Linked DNA regions of Homo sapiens: all the other regions are reported to be linked to region 1. The links are microRNA targets in miRTarBase. Many come from high-throughput screens and were not tested one by one. Region 1 holds a microRNA gene; each other region holds the end of a gene's coding sequence.
Evidence for each region. Region 1 holds the annotated microRNA hsa-miR-3179 (AGAAGGGGUGAAAUUUAAACGU, at 1,939-1,960, shown strand). A microRNA usually pairs through its seed, bases 2 to 8, with sites in the 3' UTR of a target mRNA and lowers its output. Matches are read on the target gene's strand: a 7mer-m8 pairs with bases 2 to 8, a 7mer-A1 pairs with bases 2 to 7 and ends in A, and an 8mer does both.

Region 2: miRTarBase lists MLLT11 as a target of hsa-miR-3179. Seed matches in the 3' UTR shown: 7mer-m8 at 275-281 and 8mer at 2,189-2,196.
Region 3: miRTarBase lists GPR20 as a target of hsa-miR-3179. The part of its 3' UTR that is shown has no 7-base or 8-base seed match.
Region 4: the mRNA of PRRC2A is a reported target of hsa-miR-3179. Seed matches in the 3' UTR shown: 7mer-m8 at 3,306-3,312.

What each region holds. Positions count from the first base shown.
Region 1 is chr16:18,409,199-18,413,864 of GRCh38, reverse strand. It overlaps MIR3179-3 (microRNA 3179-3), which reads left to right and starts at 1,888; the gene lies at 1,888-1,971. All of the region lies in intron 2 of LOC112268172 (a long non-coding RNA gene), which reads right to left.
Region 2 is chr1:151,067,276-151,070,545 of GRCh38, forward strand. It overlaps MLLT11 (MLLT11 transcription factor 7 cofactor), which reads left to right. Exons shown (of 2, transcript NM_006818.4): 2 at 1-2,269. The coding sequence ends at 222. Among named protein-coding and RNA genes, the nearest start is that of GABPB2, 1.8 kb to the right of the region's middle. RefSeq lists an enhancer at 3,001-3,270.
Region 3 is chr8:141,353,404-141,358,069 of GRCh38, reverse strand. It overlaps GPR20 (G protein-coupled receptor 20), which reads left to right. Exons shown (of 2, transcript NM_005293.3): 2 at 123-1,600. The coding sequence starts at 147. The coding sequence ends at 1,223. Among named protein-coding and RNA genes, the nearest start is that of GPR20, 12 kb to the left of the region's middle. RefSeq lists enhancers at 344-965, 966-1,587.
Region 4 is chr6:31,636,346-31,641,011 of GRCh38, reverse strand. It overlaps PRRC2A (proline rich coiled-coil 2A), which reads right to left. Exons shown (of 31, transcript NM_004638.4): 26 at 4,593-4,666; 27 at 4,404-4,502; 28 at 4,067-4,279; 29 at 3,876-3,970; 30 at 3,688-3,778; 31 at 3,241-3,566. The coding sequence ends at 3,426. It overlaps BAG6 (BAG cochaperone 6), which reads left to right. Exons shown (of 26, transcript NM_001387994.1): 21 at 74-220; 22 at 308-367; 23 at 484-627; 24 at 706-813; 25 at 1,366-1,512; 26 at 1,786-1,984. The coding sequence ends at 1,881. Among named protein-coding and RNA genes, the nearest start is that of MIR6832, 4.9 kb to the right of the region's middle.

The sequences.
Region 1 (4,666 bases):
TCTTTATGTCCCCCGAAAATGAGCTGTTTTAAGTTTAGAAAACTTAAAAACACAGTGACAATGAAGCACAGATATGCATTACATACAGTCCCAAATCAGTAATGACTTCAAGCTGTGTCCTCTCTTTCCAAGAAAGACAAAGCAGAGAACAAAGTTCAACCTACAGTGTCTTCCCAAATTCTTGACCCACGGGATCTGTGAATATCTTATACGACTGAATTAAGCCTCTAAGTTTTGGGGTAACTCATGCAACATTAGGTAACTGGAATAGTGCTCAATAAATGTCTGTCACATGAATGGGCAGTGACCATGGATGCATTTCTAGTTGTGTATTAGTTAAGGCTCTCTTGGTTTCAAGTAACAGAAATCCAACTCCAACTAGCTTGAGCAAAATGGGGCATTCCTCTGGTCAAGTAACGGAGAAATCCAAGAGTCTCTGGCTTCATGCATAGCGGGACCCAGTCTCAATTTCCACCTCCTGGCTCTGCTTCCCTTGATGCCAACTTTCAGGAATCAGCTTTCTGAAAGACCACTCTGCTAGAAACAGACAGGCCCATCCTTTCAACCAGGTCCAGGACTGTTTGCTCAGTCACTGCTCTCAGAGGCAGGGGCAGAGGCAGATGCCGGGCACACATCCACAGAAGTGGAGATGGCAGGAAACTGAGAGTGGAGTGCTGGAAAGCTGGCTTTTGCCTATGGGTTCCGCTTCTGACATCATCCGGCAATGTCAGGCTTTACATTGCCCCCATCTGCAGACCCAGCAGAAGGACAGCTTCCATCCCACCACATCAATATGCCAGTCCTGGGGCGGGGGAAGGACTTATGGGCAACCTTTGCAGAATCACTGGGGCCTGGCCGCACATGAGCCATGCCCACGCTCATGTGACAGGCGGCCCCTGTGCCTGGGGTGCTGTATTACCCAGAGGAATAAGTGATCCTGGGTGGGCAAAAGCAACAGAAGAGAAGTCAGCTCCACTTCCTTCCAAAACTTGAGAAGGCCTGGTCAAAATCACCCTCCAGGCCCGGTGTGGTGGCTCATGCCTGTAATCCCAGCACTTTGGGAGGTTGAGATGGGCAGATCATGAGGTCAAGAGATCGAGACCATCCTGGCCAATATGGTGAAACCCCGTCTCTACTAAAACTACAAAAATTAGCTAGGTGTGGTGGTGGGCGCCTGTAGTCCCAGCCACTCGATAGGCTGACAGGAGAATCACTTGATCCAGGGAGTCGGAGGTTGCAGTGAGCCGAGATCGCACCATTGCACTCTAGCCTGGCGACAGAGTGAGACTAAAAAAAAAAAAAAAGAAAAAAGAAAAAAATCAGCCTCCATTTTTGGCTTTCTCTTTCATTAGAAAAATGAACCTGACTTTATGACCATGACAATGAAATGCCTAGAGAAGGGAGCACTCATTTTCCAGTGGGCCTACTGTGTGCTGGGGTGGCGAGACTCTTCCTGCCCTGGAACTTGGTGAGGTCAGGAGGGAAGATATTATATGACTGCCTTCCTCTGTACTTTTTCAGTGGGGGCAGGTGTTTATGCTTGATGATGCAATGGTGAGATCTTGGTTGGAATATGAACTTTTCTTTCTTTTTTTTTTTTTAGATGGGTTCTTGTTCTGTTCCCCAGGCTGGAGTACAATGGCACCATCACAGCTCACTGCAGCCTTGATCTCCCAGGGTCAAGGGATCATCGTGCCTCAGCCTGCTGAGTAGCTGGGACTACAGGAGTGCACCACCACACCTGGCTAATTTTTTTAAAAAAAATCTTTGTAGAGATGAGCTCTCACTAGGTTGCCCAGGCTGGTCTTGAACTCCTGAGCTCAAGCAATCCTCCCACCTTGGGCTCCCTAAGTGTTGGGATTACAGGCAAGAGTCACCACGCCCAGCCAGGATCACAGACGTTTAAATTACACTCCTTCTGCTGTGCCTTACAGCAGTAGAAGGGGTGAAATTTAAACGTCTGTGATCCTGGGGTTGTTGAAGATGCCACCCATCTACATATTCTTTCAGATGCACAATATTTCACTGTGTGAATGAAACAGCAGCCCTTCTTACGTGTGCTTTTTGGAATTTGAAGATTTTGTAAGATAAGATGAATGCATTGGAACAAGTGATCCTCAATTCTGTGCAGTCTGTGCCTCCGGAGACTGGCGGCTGCCCCTCCCTGTCTAGTCTTGCAAGAGAGGCAGCTGGCAAGAGGACAGAAGCCGGCAGCTGCTGCGTTTTCATCCTGTTTCTGCTCTTGGAGCTGAGGGGGAGAGGTGGCTAGCAGCCACCCAGTGATCAAACTTGCAGCCTGCCTCTCTTGCTTCCTTTTCACAGACTGGAGTGTGCCTGGGTATGGAGAAAGAACATTTTGCTTCTTGCCTCTCAGAGTTTCAAGAACGCCTCACCTGAGTGGCATGCATTCATGGAATGAGTAATTATTACAGTGGAGAACTCCTCACTGTGAATTAATTACACAGATGATATTCAAGACTTAGACTGGGCTAGTGCAGGGGTTAGCAAACTATGGCCCACTGTTCTTGTTTTATAAATAAAGTGTTATGAGCACACAGCCATGCCCATTCATTTGCAGATTATGGCTGCTTTTGCCTGACAGTGCCAGATGTAAGTAGTTGTGGCAAAGACCAGGTAGCCTAAAAAGCCTAAAATACTTGCTATCTGGGTCTTTACAGAAGACATTTTGTTGTTGTTGTTGTTGTTTTTGAGATGGGGTCTTTCTCTGTCACCCAGGCTGGAGTGCAGTGGTGTGATCTCAGCTCACTGCAACCTCCGCCTCTTGGGTTCAAATGATTATCGTGCCTCAGCCTCCCTAGTAGCTGGGATTATAGGCGCCTGCCACCAAGCCTGGCTAATTTTTGCATTTTTAGTAGAAACAGGGCTTTACCATGTTGGCCAGGCTGGTCTCAAACCCCGACCTCAGATGATCTGCCTGCCTCAGCCTCCCAAAGTGCTGGGATTACAGGTGTGAGCCACTGCGCCTGGCCTAGAAAATGTTTTCTAACCTGTTGTCTAGTGGGTGCTTTGTAAAGTTTAGTTTTAGGGGGAGCATCATTAATTCATTCAACAAGTATTAACTGAGCATCTCCCCTGTGCTGGGTGCTGCTTGGCATACTGGGGGTTTAGTGGTGTGAGAGAGACCGAGCCTCAGCTCTTAGGAGCACAGTGCTGATGGAGGACGAAAGGTAAACACACACATTAGAAGTTGTTGGATAATGCCAGGCGTTACGAAGAAAAGAAGCAGAACAAGGCAATGTGACAGAGGATGATTGGTATCATGGAAGGTCTCTCTGAGGAGGCAGCATCTGAGCTGAGACCTGAGGAGGGGAAGGGCCAGTTATGCAAAGATCTGGGGGAAGAGCTGCCCAGGCAGAGGGGACCATAATTGCAAAGGCCCCCAGGAGGAAATGAGCTCCCTGAGTTTCAGGAATAGCAAAGAGGCCAGGGTGGCCAGAGTCAAGTGATTGAGAGGAAGAGATGAGAACGATGGCAGGGACCGGGTCATGTGGGTGCCCTGGAAAGGAGTTTAGATTTTATTCTAATGGCAACAGAAGGCATTGGAGGGTTTAAGTAGGGAAAGGGGAGTGATCTGATGTATGTTTTTAAACAATTGCTTCTTTAAATTTTGAGGAGATTGGATTATTGGGAAGCAAGAATGAATTTAGGGAGAGAAGCAAAGAGGACGTTGTGTTGGTTTAGGCAAAAGACAGCAATGGCTTGGATTGGGGTGATGGAAGTAACAGTGGCAGGAAGTGGTGAGCTTGGGGCTATGCTTCAGAGATAGAGCAGAAAGGTCTTGCTGATGTATTTAATACAGGAGGTGAGGGAAGGGAGGAATCAACGATAAGTGAATCGTTTGTTTCTAGCTGAACCACTGAAATGTGTAGGTAAATTGAGACTTCTGTTTTGGCCATCGTGAGTTTGAGATGCTTATCAGACACCCGAGTCTGCAGCCTGGGTGAGAAATCACGGCTGGAGATGAGACGTGGTGAGCTGGGAGTGTTTTTGGATGACAGATGAGGCCACGGGATTGAATAATAGGTATCCTTATGAAGACTGAGAAAAGGAGAGGGCTGGGGGCCAAGCCCTGGGACAGTGCAACCTTCAGAGGATGGGCGAGGAGGGCCCTGCCCAAGAGACAGAGAGGAAGTGGCCCGTGAGGTAGGGGGAAGTCCAGGAGAGGACAGTGTGGTGAATACCTAATGCTTTACTCATTCACTGGTGAATGAATGGATGGATGGATGGATGGATGGATGGATGGATGGATGAATGCATGAATATTCCTTAATAATATGGTTGGCCATGGTCCATCCATATGACTCCTACGGACACCATGTTACCATTTCACACTCGTCTTCTATTTAGGAGAAATCAGACGAAACTGCCATCTTATATATAGGTCAAAAATGGTTTCCATAACCACCCACCTCACATGCTTACTGAAATTCATTAAGTAATAGATGGGGTGGGGGGCGGGAGGTTTACAGGTCGGCAAAGGAGGCAAGGCTAGAGTGATCCATGTGGCAGTGGATTAGAGTGGCAGGCATCAGTATGAACACATGTTTAGCTCAATATAGATACAGATGGCTACATAGAGAAATATTTATGGATATGTGCATATACACAAATTAGTAAGACACACATTACTAATCCTGGCTGTCAG
Region 2 (3,270 bases), not on the chromosome of region 1:
CCCATCCCAGAACTGGATCTGTCGGAGCTGGAAGGCCTGGGTCTGTCAGATACAGCCACCTACAAGGTCAAAGACAGCAGCGTTGGCAAAATGATCGGGCAAGCAACTGCAGCAGACCAGGAGAAAAACCCTGAAGGTGATGGCCTCCTTGAGTACAGCACCTTCAACTTCTGGAGAGCTCCCATTGCCAGCATCCACTCCTTCGAACTGGACTTGCTCTAAGGCCAAGACTTCTCTCTCCCATCACCTTGCCCTCATTGTCTTCCCTCTCAAGCCCCTTCCTTTCCACTCCTTTCCCATTTTAATCTTGTTCTCTCCCTACTGTGTTGGTGGTGCTGATGAATCTGCCAGAGTTGAGTTCTATGTATTTATTTATCTATCTGTCTACTCCATTTCTCTCAAAAGCCCTCAAGTCACAAAGTAAATGGTTCAAGCAATGGAGTACTGGGTCACAGGGATTCCTCCTTTCCCCCCCAAATATTAACTCCAGAAACTAGGCCTGACTGGGGACACCTGAGAGTAGTATAGTAGTGCAAAATGGAAGACTGATTTTTGACTCTATTATAATCAGCTTCAGAGATTCCTTAAACCTTCCTAATTTCCTGCTCCAGGGCAGTAAACACAAATATTTCTTCAAGGGGTGATGAAAACCTCGGAAGTTTTAATTTGAGGTTATCTGCTACGAAACAGTATTTCTAAAAGGCTAAAGTGATAAGTCTCTTGCTTTTTTTTGATCCTGCTCTTATATTCTTTTTTTTCCTCAGAGAAATCAGGAGGGTAGTTAGAGGTATAAAACAGGAGGAAATATTATGGAAAATGAAAATAGGGAAAATAATTGAATCATTTTAGAAGTAGCTAATTTCTTTTCTCAAAAGAGTGTCCCTTCTTCACACCTACTCACTTTACAACTTTGCTCCTAACTGTGGGTTGAAAACTCTAGCTAAAGAAAGTTATCAAATCTTAACATGCATTCCTACTATTATGATAGTTTTTAAGGTTTCAATTCAATCTTCTGAACGGCATAAGTCCTATTTTAGCCTTACCTCCTGCATTTGCAATACGTAATACTGATCAGTGGGCACAGTTCTTCAGCTACATTGAGACCCTGAAATGAACAATTATATTCTGACTCGACATCTTGTCCCCAATCCTTCCAAAAATATTGATGGTGATTTGTGCTACCATTTACTCGTTTATTTAATAAAGACATTCAATCCCAGGACTGGAGTCTAATTTTCTCTCTTCACAAGAAAAGCCACAGAAATCTGAGAAATTAGCCTTGCTTTCACACTTAGCTTATACATCTTTTTTTTCTTTTTTATTTTTGAGACAGGGTCCCACTCTGTCACCCAGGCTGGAGTGCAGTGGCGGGGATCACCGCTCACTGCAACCTCCACCCACCAGGGTCAAGGGATCCTCCCACCTCAGGCTCCCAGGTAGCTGGGATTACAGGCGCCTGCCACCAGGCCTGGTTAATTTTTGTATTTTTCATAGAGACGGGGTTTCACCATGTTGGCCAGGCTGGTCTCTAACTCCTGACCTCAGGTGATCTGCCCGCCTTAGCCTCTCAAAGTGCTGAGATTACAGGCGTGAGCCACTGAGCCCGGCCTCATTTTATCTTTCTATAATAATATTCAACTTAGAGGAAGAATGATTTGAGTAGCATTTAGACATTAGATGGTGAACTTCGCATTGAACAGATAATGAAAGGGCAAAATCAACTTAAAATTAGAAAAGTAGTTAGGGAGACAGGTACAACCACTCTTCTGCTTGCCCACTGACTACCAACATTATATTTCAGGTAATAATTCTCCTAGGTGCCTAAGAAGATAAACGAATTCACTCAAATATGTTATCTGCTTAACTTCTGGTTTTTGTGTGCCTGCTATAGGAAAGCACTGAGCCAAACAGAATGTAAACGGGAATGAGACAAGACTCCAACTCTCAAAAGAGAAACTGTAAATACCAATATGGATAGGACAGAATTGGGCAGTGTACTATAAATAAGGATGACACTATACCCTAAATAAGGATGATCTAGAGAAGTCCCCAGGTGGGAGAAAAAAAGACAAATCCTCCCTCTAGGCCATGAAAAGCCCACATCTAAAGACGGTCCCAGTCTAACGAAGAATGGGGCCAGGAAGGATAAGTAGTGCGTCCTTTTCTATTTTTACTGAGTTTTGAAGGGCCCCTTCAGAGTCCTTCAGCCATGGCAATTGGTGGGTGGAGACAGGGATCAACTGTTTGGTAAATAAAGTGACTAAATGGATTTGCAAACTCATGCTCCATCCTCTTGCAGGCCTCCAAAAAGAAATGACTCAGGCCGGGCGCGGTGGCTCACGCCTGTAATCCCAGCACTTCGGGAGGCCGAGGCGGGCCAATCACTTGAGGTCAGGAGTTCGAGACCAGCCTGGCCAACATGGTAAAATAAAACCCCATCTCTACTAAAAATACAAAAATTAGCCCAGCGTGGTGGCGGACGCCTGTAATCCCAGCTGCTGGGGAGGCTGAGGCAGGACAATCACTTGAACCCGGGAGGCAGAGGTTGCAGCGAACCGAGGTCACGCCACTGCACTTCAGCCTGGGCGACGGACGAAGCGAGACTCCGTCTCAAAAAAAAAAGGCCGCGCGCGGTGGGTCACGCCTGTAATCCCAGCACTTTGGGAGGCCGAGGCGGGTGGATCACGATGTCAGGAGATCGAGACCATCCTAGCTAACACGGTGAAACCCCGTCTCCACTAAAAATACAAAAAAATCTCCGGGCGTGGTGGCGGGCGCCTGCAGTCCCAGCTACTCCGGAGGCTGAGGCAGGAGAATGGCGTGAGCCCGGGAGACGGAGCATGCAGCGAGCCGAGATCGAGCCACTGCACTCCAGCCTGGGCGACAGAGCGAGACTCCGTCTCAAAAAAAAAAAAGAAAGAAAGAAAAGAAATGACTCAGTTATTTGTTTCACTGTTCTCACTGACAGCTTGGCTCTGGGGTCCTTACATTCGGCCTGTAACTGGAAAAATGTGTCCATCAGGCACCAGAACCCAATGCACAAAGCCAGGAACGTCCCAAACAGCTGCAGCCGAGGTTGGGATAAGGAAACGAGGCTTTCCTGTCAAACTAAACCTGGCCGCCCCGGACCCCGAAGAAGCAGCCAAGAGTTAAGACGCAATCTGCATGACTGACGCACGCTCCGAGTCTCCCTCAGCAGTTCGCCAGGTTCTTGGCGCCAACACCAGACCTAGGATCCGTCCCCTGCTGGAACTATTCAGACGCGCAAGA
Region 3 (4,666 bases), not on the chromosome of region 1:
GAGGGCATGGAGAAGGGGGATGCTGGGCGTGCAGGGGCAGACGGGCCAGCTGAGTTCTGGGCCTCAGGGCAGGGCTTAAGGCCAGGCTGGCGCCTGGGGTGACCTGGTCTCCTTGCTTCCAGGCCTGGGGTGTGCTGGCTGCCGTCATGCCCTCTGTGTCTCCAGCGGGGCCCTCGGCCGGGGCAGTCCCCAATGCCACCGCAGTGACAACAGTGCGGACCAATGCCAGCGGGCTGGAGGTGCCCCTGTTCCACCTGTTTGCCCGGCTGGACGAGGAGCTGCATGGCACCTTCCCAGGCCTGTGGCTGGCGCTGATGGCGGTGCACGGAGCCATCTTCCTGGCAGGGCTGGTGCTCAACGGGCTGGCGCTGTACGTCTTCTGCTGCCGCACCCGGGCCAAGACACCCTCAGTCATCTACACCATCAACCTGGTGGTGACCGATCTACTGGTAGGGCTGTCCCTGCCCACGCGCTTCGCTGTGTACTACGGCGCCAGGGGCTGCCTGCGCTGTGCCTTCCCGCACGTCCTCGGTTACTTCCTCAACATGCACTGCTCCATCCTCTTCCTCACCTGCATCTGCGTGGACCGCTACCTGGCCATCGTGCGGCCCGAAGGCTCCCGCCGCTGCCGCCAGCCTGCCTGTGCCAGGGCCGTGTGCGCCTTCGTGTGGCTGGCCGCCGGTGCCGTCACCCTGTCGGTGCTGGGCGTGACAGGCAGCCGGCCCTGCTGCCGTGTCTTTGCGCTGACTGTCCTGGAGTTCCTGCTGCCCCTGCTGGTCATCAGCGTGTTTACCGGCCGCATCATGTGTGCACTGTCGCGGCCGGGTCTGCTCCACCAGGGTCGCCAGCGCCGCGTGCGGGCCATGCAGCTCCTGCTCACGGTGCTCATCATCTTTCTCGTCTGCTTCACGCCCTTCCACGCCCGCCAAGTGGCCGTGGCGCTGTGGCCCGACATGCCACACCACACGAGCCTCGTGGTCTACCACGTGGCCGTGACCCTCAGCAGCCTCAACAGCTGCATGGACCCCATCGTCTACTGCTTCGTCACCAGTGGCTTCCAGGCCACCGTCCGAGGCCTCTTCGGCCAGCACGGAGAGCGTGAGCCCAGCAGCGGTGACGTGGTCAGCATGCACAGGAGCTCCAAGGGCTCAGGCCGTCATCACATCCTCAGTGCCGGCCCTCACGCCCTCACCCAGGCCCTGGCTAATGGGCCCGAGGCTTAGTCAGCAGGGCTCTGCCAGGGGCCGAAGGTCAGGACTCATCTGGGCATGCCAGCGTGGACACCCACCATGCCAGGGGTGGCAATCGGTTCCATCTCGATTGATTGGTGATGGCTACCCAGAGCACCGCATTGAGCGTCTAAGGCCACTGTGCTGTGGTTGATTAGCAATGTCTGCCACTGGCTCCGATGGGATGTGGTGGCCTGAATGCCGGTGATTTGCTGTTCCTGGGGTATAGCACGTCCACTGAAAACTCACAGGGGTAGCCGGGAGCTGCTCCTCACTTTGGCCAGTTTGTCTCCAGAAGGAGTTCCTCAGAAAAAAGGGCACAGTGGATTCCATTGATTAGAAGGATGAGATGAAAAAGAAAAAAGAAAAAAGGACAAAGATTATTTAGGTGCTGGGAATTCCCAAGAGAGTTAAGAAACAACCTGAATTCCCGAGAGAGCTAACAACAACAATGCTCCCTCCAACACACACACAGGAGGAAGGACAAGGACAGAAAGAAAAGGCCAGGGAGCATTCGTGTTGCATTAATGGAGGTGGGGGGGGGTGCATGTCTCTGCAAGACCCCCCCACCTGAGGCCTCCGTGAATTGCACGATAAAACGGCAGACACCCACAGGCCGCTCTGCTGTGAGCAAGCACTGTGATATCTAGGTTGACACTTGAACCCACAACAACCCACAAAGGAGACGCTACTTTTCATCCATTTCTTGGTGCTGGAGGGGTCAAGTGACACACACAGGGGCCACAGCTGGGAAATGGCAGGGTCAGAATGAAAACCAGCCCCACCTCCTCCAGTGCCCTTGCACCTCCTTCCACAGAGAGTGCACGATCATCCCAAAGCCCCCACTCTAGGAATGGCCTCAGAATGGCTCACCTGCTGCCCCAGGTAGAGGCAGTGTTCACAGCCCCATCCTATGGATAAGAAAACCAAGAACAAAGTCACGCAGCAGTGAACCCAGGCATGCCGGGTTGTGGCCACCATCTCCCCATGCAAACAGCCATTTTCCTCCCCCCGGGGGCAGAGAGGACGTGACCAGCTGCTCTGGCCCAGCTCACTATGAGTCCCCATGCCTTCACTAGGGAGGGAGCTTTTCTCTGGCTGGGGCCTCTGATCATCTCCTCAGAGCTGGACTCCAGGATTTCCTCCCACGTGCCTTCTGCCGAGCGTCCAAGCTCCCAGCCCTTTCAGGACTGGTAATGGGGAAGGGAGCCTGTGGTGAGGAAGAGGAGTGTGGGGCATCCCTGGCACTTCCGGCTCTGAGGCCCTGCCATCAGACCTGGCCATAGCCACTGAAGCAGGCGAGATGGGCTCAGGTCCTCAGGCCAGGCCTTTGGCTACAGAGAAGTCCTACACACTCAGGGTGACCGTGGCCTGTGTGGCTGGGAGCAGGAGGGGGAGGAGGAGGAAAAGGCCGGGGCTCCCCGATTCAGCTCGAGGCAGAGTCTCCTGACCCCAGTTTAGGGTCCTGGACTTTATATCCCCATGTTACAAATGAAGAAACTGAGGCTCAGAGGGAGAAAGGGGCTTGCCAAGGTCATAGAGTGAGTGCCTGAGTCATCCAAGGCCAGTATTGTCCTCACCAACCCCAGCTGTGGCCATGTGGAGCAGCTGGGGTGGGGGGCACCGGCCCAGAGGAGTCAGAGGCGTGCCCCGCAAGGTGGTGGAACTGGGAGTGCTGCCAGGGTTACTTCCTCCCTGGGTCCGGATGCCCGAGAAGCAGTGGGTATCACCATGGCCGCCAGCATTCTTGATACTTACCAGGCACCAGGCACAATTCTGGAACCTTCCCCCAGCCCCCAGCTCTCGGGTGCTGCTCAGAGAGGGGCCGTGGCTTACCAGGGATGCAGGGTTCCACAAGGCAGAGGGGCCCAGCGTTCAGGAAAGGACGTGGCTGGGGGACAGGGCTGTGCATGCAGAAAAACCCCGCTGACCACAGGTGCAGCATTCACGGCGACTTTCAGGCAAGCAGGCACCAACAGCCAGCGAGCCATCATTCCCAGGGCTGCGAGCTGGCACCCACGTGGTCACATGCCTAGAGCTGAGGAGTGAGGGGTCAGGGCTCAGGTGTCCTGCCCAGCCCAAGCCATGAGCTTCTTCCAGGCTCATGTGGCCCAGCAGTCCCTGAATGGCCTTGCTTACCTGGGACCCCTCCACCCACGCTCACAAGTCATCCAGGGCCAGGGACTCTGGACTCCATTCCTCCAGGAGCTGTGGATCCTCTTGCTCCATCTTAGGGGGCGCCCCAAGCCCCAGAGACTACCTGCCGGCTCCCACTCCCGCCCCTCAAGCAAGCTCTGCACGTGGCCTAGAGTATGACACCCCTCTGCCCTTGGTCCCGCACTGTACTGTGAAGACCTCTCCAGCCCAGGGCTGCAAGGAGGCAGGGGCCAGCGGGAAGGAGTGCTAAGATGAGGGGGAATGGCCTGGGCAAAGGTAAGGCCAAGCGCCCGCCTCGCTGGGGCCAGTGAAGGGCCTTCCATGCAGCTTCCCAGCCCCTCCCCTCCCCTACCAGTCTTCCCGGCCCCTTCCCCGCCAGTCTTCCCTGCCCCTCCTCCACCGGTGTTACGTGCCCCTCGGGCCTTTGGCCTCCCCATCAATGACCCCCAGCCTGGCTCCATTCCTGGTTGTCACTCTAATTCACGCTAAAGAGTGAATGGCTGACACTTGAGGATTGCTGTGCTTGAAGAGGCAGGGCTTGCAATTTTTCTGGAACAATCCCTTTCTTCAGGAGGAGGGGTCTCTAAGGCAGGTGAGCCAGGTCCCCTCCTTGTCCCCACATCTGAAATCCAATCATTCAACTTGGGTTCCTCGGGCCTCAGAGGCTTCTCAGACTGTAAGAGGCCGGGAGGGGAAGGACATCCTGTCCGAAGCGGCAAGTGCGTCCACTACCACTCATGCTGGAGAGGACAGGCCGCCTGTCTTCTGTGGCCAGGGACACAGGCTTGGGGCCCACCCTCAGACCTCTGAGAACTGCCTGCCAGCCCCCGATGCAGAACCCTTGATAGGCAAGCCTCAGTTTCTCCACACCCCACTCCTCTTTCTCCTCTCCTCAGCCTTACAGCTGGAGGGCAGGGGGCTGGGGAAGGGGGTCACCCCAATGCCCTGGACTGGGCCCCACAGCTCCCCCGGCTGCTTGCTTCCTTCTCCTGACGGCCGGCTCCTTCCCACTTCAGCCTCCTCTGTGGGCACCGAGGCCCAGGAGCTTCAAAAGTCAGACCAAGACTGTCCTTGGTCCCACAGGGGCAGAGGTGAGATCTGTGCGTGCCCCCTCTCCACACTCACGGGGACAGGGCGTGAGATCTTTGCGCCCCCTCCCCATGATCTCCCTTTCCAGATTTTCAAAACGCCCAAGTGACGTGAAATGGTGTGTGTATTTATATCCGACGTAAACAATCTCCTTCACGAGATGTCCTCGTCTGGAATTAAAGCTGTTTATT
Region 4 (4,666 bases), not on the chromosome of region 1:
TGTAACCTGGATCTAATCTATTTCTAAAGGTGGTTGAGGGTTTTGTGTTCTAAATCTGCTTTCTGTCCCTCAGCGTCGTATGTCTCGTGGGGTGAATCCCTCCTTGGTGAGCTGGCTGACCACTATGATGGGACTGAGGCTTCAGGTGGTACTGGAGCACATGCCTGTAGGCCCTGATGCCATTCTCAGATACGTTCGCAGGGTTGGTGATCCCCCCCAGGTAAGGGACCTGTTGGGCGATGGGGTCAGGGTACTTGAGAGAACTGGAGAGATCTGAGAGGAAGTATGGTGTTCTTTAATTTCACAGCCACTTCCTGAGGAGCCAATGGAAGTTCAGGGAGCAGAAAGAGCTTCCCCTGAGCCTCAGGTACTCTAGAGAGGGGGAGGTTGAGGGGCCAGATAATGTGGAGTGGAGGGCTGGGGGAGAAAGGTTTGGAGGCTAAAAATTCTGAAGCCTGGCTCTTCCCGCCATCTGACACCCAGCGGGAGAATGCTTCCCCAGCCCCTGGAACAACAGCAGAAGAGGCCATGTCCCGAGGTCCACCTCCTGCTCCTGAGGGGGGCTCCCGGGATGAACAGGATGGAGCTTCAGCTGAGACAGAACCTTGGGCAGCTGCAGTCCCCCCAGTAAGTGTCAGGAAGTAATCCAGTGGGTCATGGCAGCTGAAAGTCAAGGACATTACTATTTTCTCTTTTCCTCCCCAGGAATGGGTCCCTATTATCCAGCAGGACATTCAGAGCCAGCGGAAGGTGAAACCGCAGCCCCCTCTGAGTGATGCCTACCTCAGTGGTATGCCTGCCAAGAGACGCAAGGTTGGTTTTCCTCTTCCCTAAGCCTCTCTCTCTATCCAGGTTTCCCCGTCATGCCTGGAATCAAACTATGTAGAGATGGTGGGAGCTCTTGTTATTCAGTCTCCCCTCCCCTCGTTTAATGAGGAAACTTTTTCTGGGATTCAGACTTGCTCTTGGTTGTTGCATAACCATACAGGACTTGACCTTAGTCTGTTTGCTAGCAGTCCTGTATTAGTTGCTCAGCTGCCTAATCCCCATGTGCTTAGATCCCATTTTCCTTTAAGGTGGGTTTCCTCTTGTGGATTACCTAGCTCTGAATCCCGGATGGCTTGACCCCTTCTGCCTTTCGTTTTGAAGAGCACGTTCAAGCACATTCACTTTAGTTTTGGCTAGTGCCAAAGAGAATTAGGAAGGCATTTCTGCTGTAAAAACCACATCCTGGACTCTTAATTTCCCCTCTCTCCACTAGCATGGAGACTCAGTGGAGTGGTTGACTCATGGAAAGGGTGAGCCGGATGGTGGCACTGGATCTGACGTTGATCCTCTTTTCCCTCCCAACCCCCTGTCCCCCAGACGATGCAGGGTGAGGGCCCCCAGCTGCTTCTCTCAGAGGCTGTGAGCCGGGCAGCTAAGGCAGCCGGAGCTCGGCCCCTGACGAGCCCCGAGAGCCTGAGCCGGGACCTGGAGGCACCAGAGGTTCAGGAGAGCTACAGGCAGCAGGTGCCACCTTGAAGCAGAATAGGGATGGTCTAGTGGGAGGGGTTGGGCTAGGGTCCCTCTTCCCTGGATCCCTTCAGCGATGAACTGGTCAGCCTGGTGCTACCATTTGTTTTCCCCTTTGGCATCTGGGAAGGCTTGACAGTGCCACCCCGGGCTATTTGACAGTGTGCTTGGGGGGGGAAATGTTAGCTTCTGAGGGATGGCCTTGTGTGCTTGCTGGGATCATGGGGACTTGGCCAGCGTTTCTCCAACCTGCTTACTTTTTCTCTTTAGCTCCGGTCTGATATACAAAAACGACTGCAGGAAGACCCCAACTACAGTCCCCAGCGCTTCCCCAATGCCCAGCGGGCCTTTGCTGATGATCCTTAGCTCTTTGCTCTATGGCCCTTCCTCATCAGGGGACCGTTTCCCCCCTCTTCCTTCACAGTATTTAAGAAATAAAAGTCGGATTTTTCTGGCTGCTTTCTCTCTACATTGTCTCCATTAGGTAGTGTGTCCCTTAATCTTGTGTGAACTTTTTTAAATTAATACTTCCTTGGAACACTGTTGTGTTCTACTCAGCACGCTAAATTGTACAAGCCAGTTTTGATGTTTGTTTTTTTTTTTTTTTGAGACAGAGTATTGCTGTCTCCCAGGCTGGAGTGCAGTGGCCCGATCTCGAGCTCGGCTCACTACAACCTCCACCTCCCGGGTTCAAGTGATTCTCACTCATGCCTCAGCCTCCTGAGTAGCTGGGACTACAGGCGTCCGCCACGACGCCCGGCTAATTTTTGTATTTTTAGTAGAGACAGGGTTTCACCATATTGGCCAGGCTGGTCTCGAACTCCTGACCTTGTGATCCACCCGCCTTGGCCTCCCAAAGTGCTGGAATTACAGGCGTGGGCCACCGCGCCCAGCCTGATGTTTGTATTTTTTGTGCGAAAGCACTTTATATATAAATAAAAAACCTGTATTTTGAGTTGGGAGCATATTCCAGGTGCACACTAGCATAGAGCTCTCAAATTACCCATCAAAAAAAGTTTCTGAGCAGCTGCAGACCTAAGTATAGTCTTTAGCATAACTAGCATGCAGCGTTACCATGTGAAATCCCACTTAGTTTGACAATGCTGGAATTGGTCTATCCAATTCAAAGAGCCCCTTAAGTGTGCTCCAACATTGAGGCCTTAACAGAGATTTCCCCTTAGTTCATCATAAAGAACTGAAGTCCCATGGCTGCAAATTCTTTGCTAGTCCCTTTGAGATGCAGTTGAAGTCCCTTCTAAACCCCCCCATCCCCTACCTTGGCTAGTTTAGTGCTCTTATCAACTAAGCATGGCATAAGCTTAGAAAATTCCAGCTAGACCTCTTGGAACATGAGCTCACGGACATTTAACAGGCCTGCTGGAGAGTCCATGTGAAGACACTGGTTGATAACCCAGTAATGTTACAGATGTCCCACCAAGGCCCTAGATATGCAAAGGAAGCCATATTGGGACCAGCCCAGGTGTCAGCTGCAGACTGATAACCAGTTGACCTCGCTCACTGGCACAAAAAAGCAGATTTATCCAGCTGAGCTCAGCCCAAATTCCAGACTCACAAAAATTTAAAGATCCAATACGATGGTCATGTTTTTAGTTTCAACAGCTCACTGGAATAAGTAATGAATATTTCCCTGACTGAAACTACAGATCACTCAGCACCATGCTTTAAGACAATGCAAACAACTCATCCCCCAAATCATTGTAGAAGTTTTTTTTTTTAAATCCTTTTATTACTCTTTTTTAACAAACAGCCCCAGGGACAGGGGACCAGGGGAAGGGGGAGGAGGGGAAGTGAGGCCCCAGCCCCAGAACCCCTCCCCGCCCACCCCTTTCCCCCTTATATATTTATAATCTATATACAAGCCCCGGGGGTAGGGGGCAAGAGGAACTCCCTCAGCGGGGTGGGGGCAACCCAGGCTCCTTGTCCCCTCGGGACCCAGGCTCCTCTGCCCGTCGGGAGGGCCCTTCTCGAGGTGGCGGCCCTGTCCGCTCCCAAGGCTTAGGTATCCAGCGCAGGGCATCTGGTGGGGAGGCCTAGGGGACAGGCATGTGTTAAACAGTGAGTCACAGTGAGAGGTCAGCGATGAGACGGAAGGACAGGAAATCAGGTGGCAACTCGAATTTAGAGTTGGGGCCACAAGGGTTTCTCCTTCACCTGCTGGTAAAGGTCGACGCGCTGGGTGCGGAAGACTCCACTGTAGGTGGAAGGCGTGGCCTTGAGACGGGAATTGAGGCCAGAGAAGGACCTAAGGGAAGAAGGGCGTCTAAGGCAAGCCTAGGATCCAGACCCTGGTTCCAAAGTAAGGAAGCACTTGGAAAGTCCACATCCCTATTCCGTTTCACCTTCCAGTTGGGGGAGTCCGTGATGATCCAGGTCCCCCAAGGTTGCTGCTCAGTTTTTGATAATCCTGGAACGGCTTTAGTTCCACTGGATGCAGCTGAGGGGAAAAAAATCATGAGCTGCCTACCTTGAAATACAGAATCCCTACTCCCAAGTCTTGGCGCTCCCTAGCCCCTCAGTTCCTGTACCTTACCTCTGCTCGCCCCAAGCTAGCGGGGAAGGGCCTGGCAGGTGAAGGCAGCACCCGAGTAGCAGGAGCAGGTGGGGGCCGCACAGCCAGGCTGGGGGGCTGCAGAGCAGGGCCCACAGGTAACAGAGAAAGGGGAGGTGGGGCAGGAGGTGGTGCTGGCGGCAGGGAGCCAAAGTTCACCACAGGCAGCTGTGAGTCTACCATGGGTAGAAGCATCTGTAACAAGAAATTTGGGTGTGCATGTTGGGGGCAGGGAGGAATGTCAGAAAACCAGGGAAAATCAAAGCCAGCAACTGGACAGAGAAATCAAATGAAGGGGAAGTGTGAAGATACAATATACCTGCTGGGCAGGAGCCCCTGAAGGGAGAAAGCCACTTTGGCCACCAGGCTGCAGAGGAGTAGAATAAAAATCCGAAGGGGATGGCAGATCCTGGCGTACCTGTCGGGAAACAGGGAGAAATATATCAACCCCCACAAAATCATTCTCCCTACCCTATCCCCCAATATCTAATACCTGCCCCCCTCTTACCTGAAGCAACGATGTGTCAGGCAAAGGACTGGGGCAGAAAGCCGGAGAGTAGAGGAAGGAAGGTGGAGGGTAGA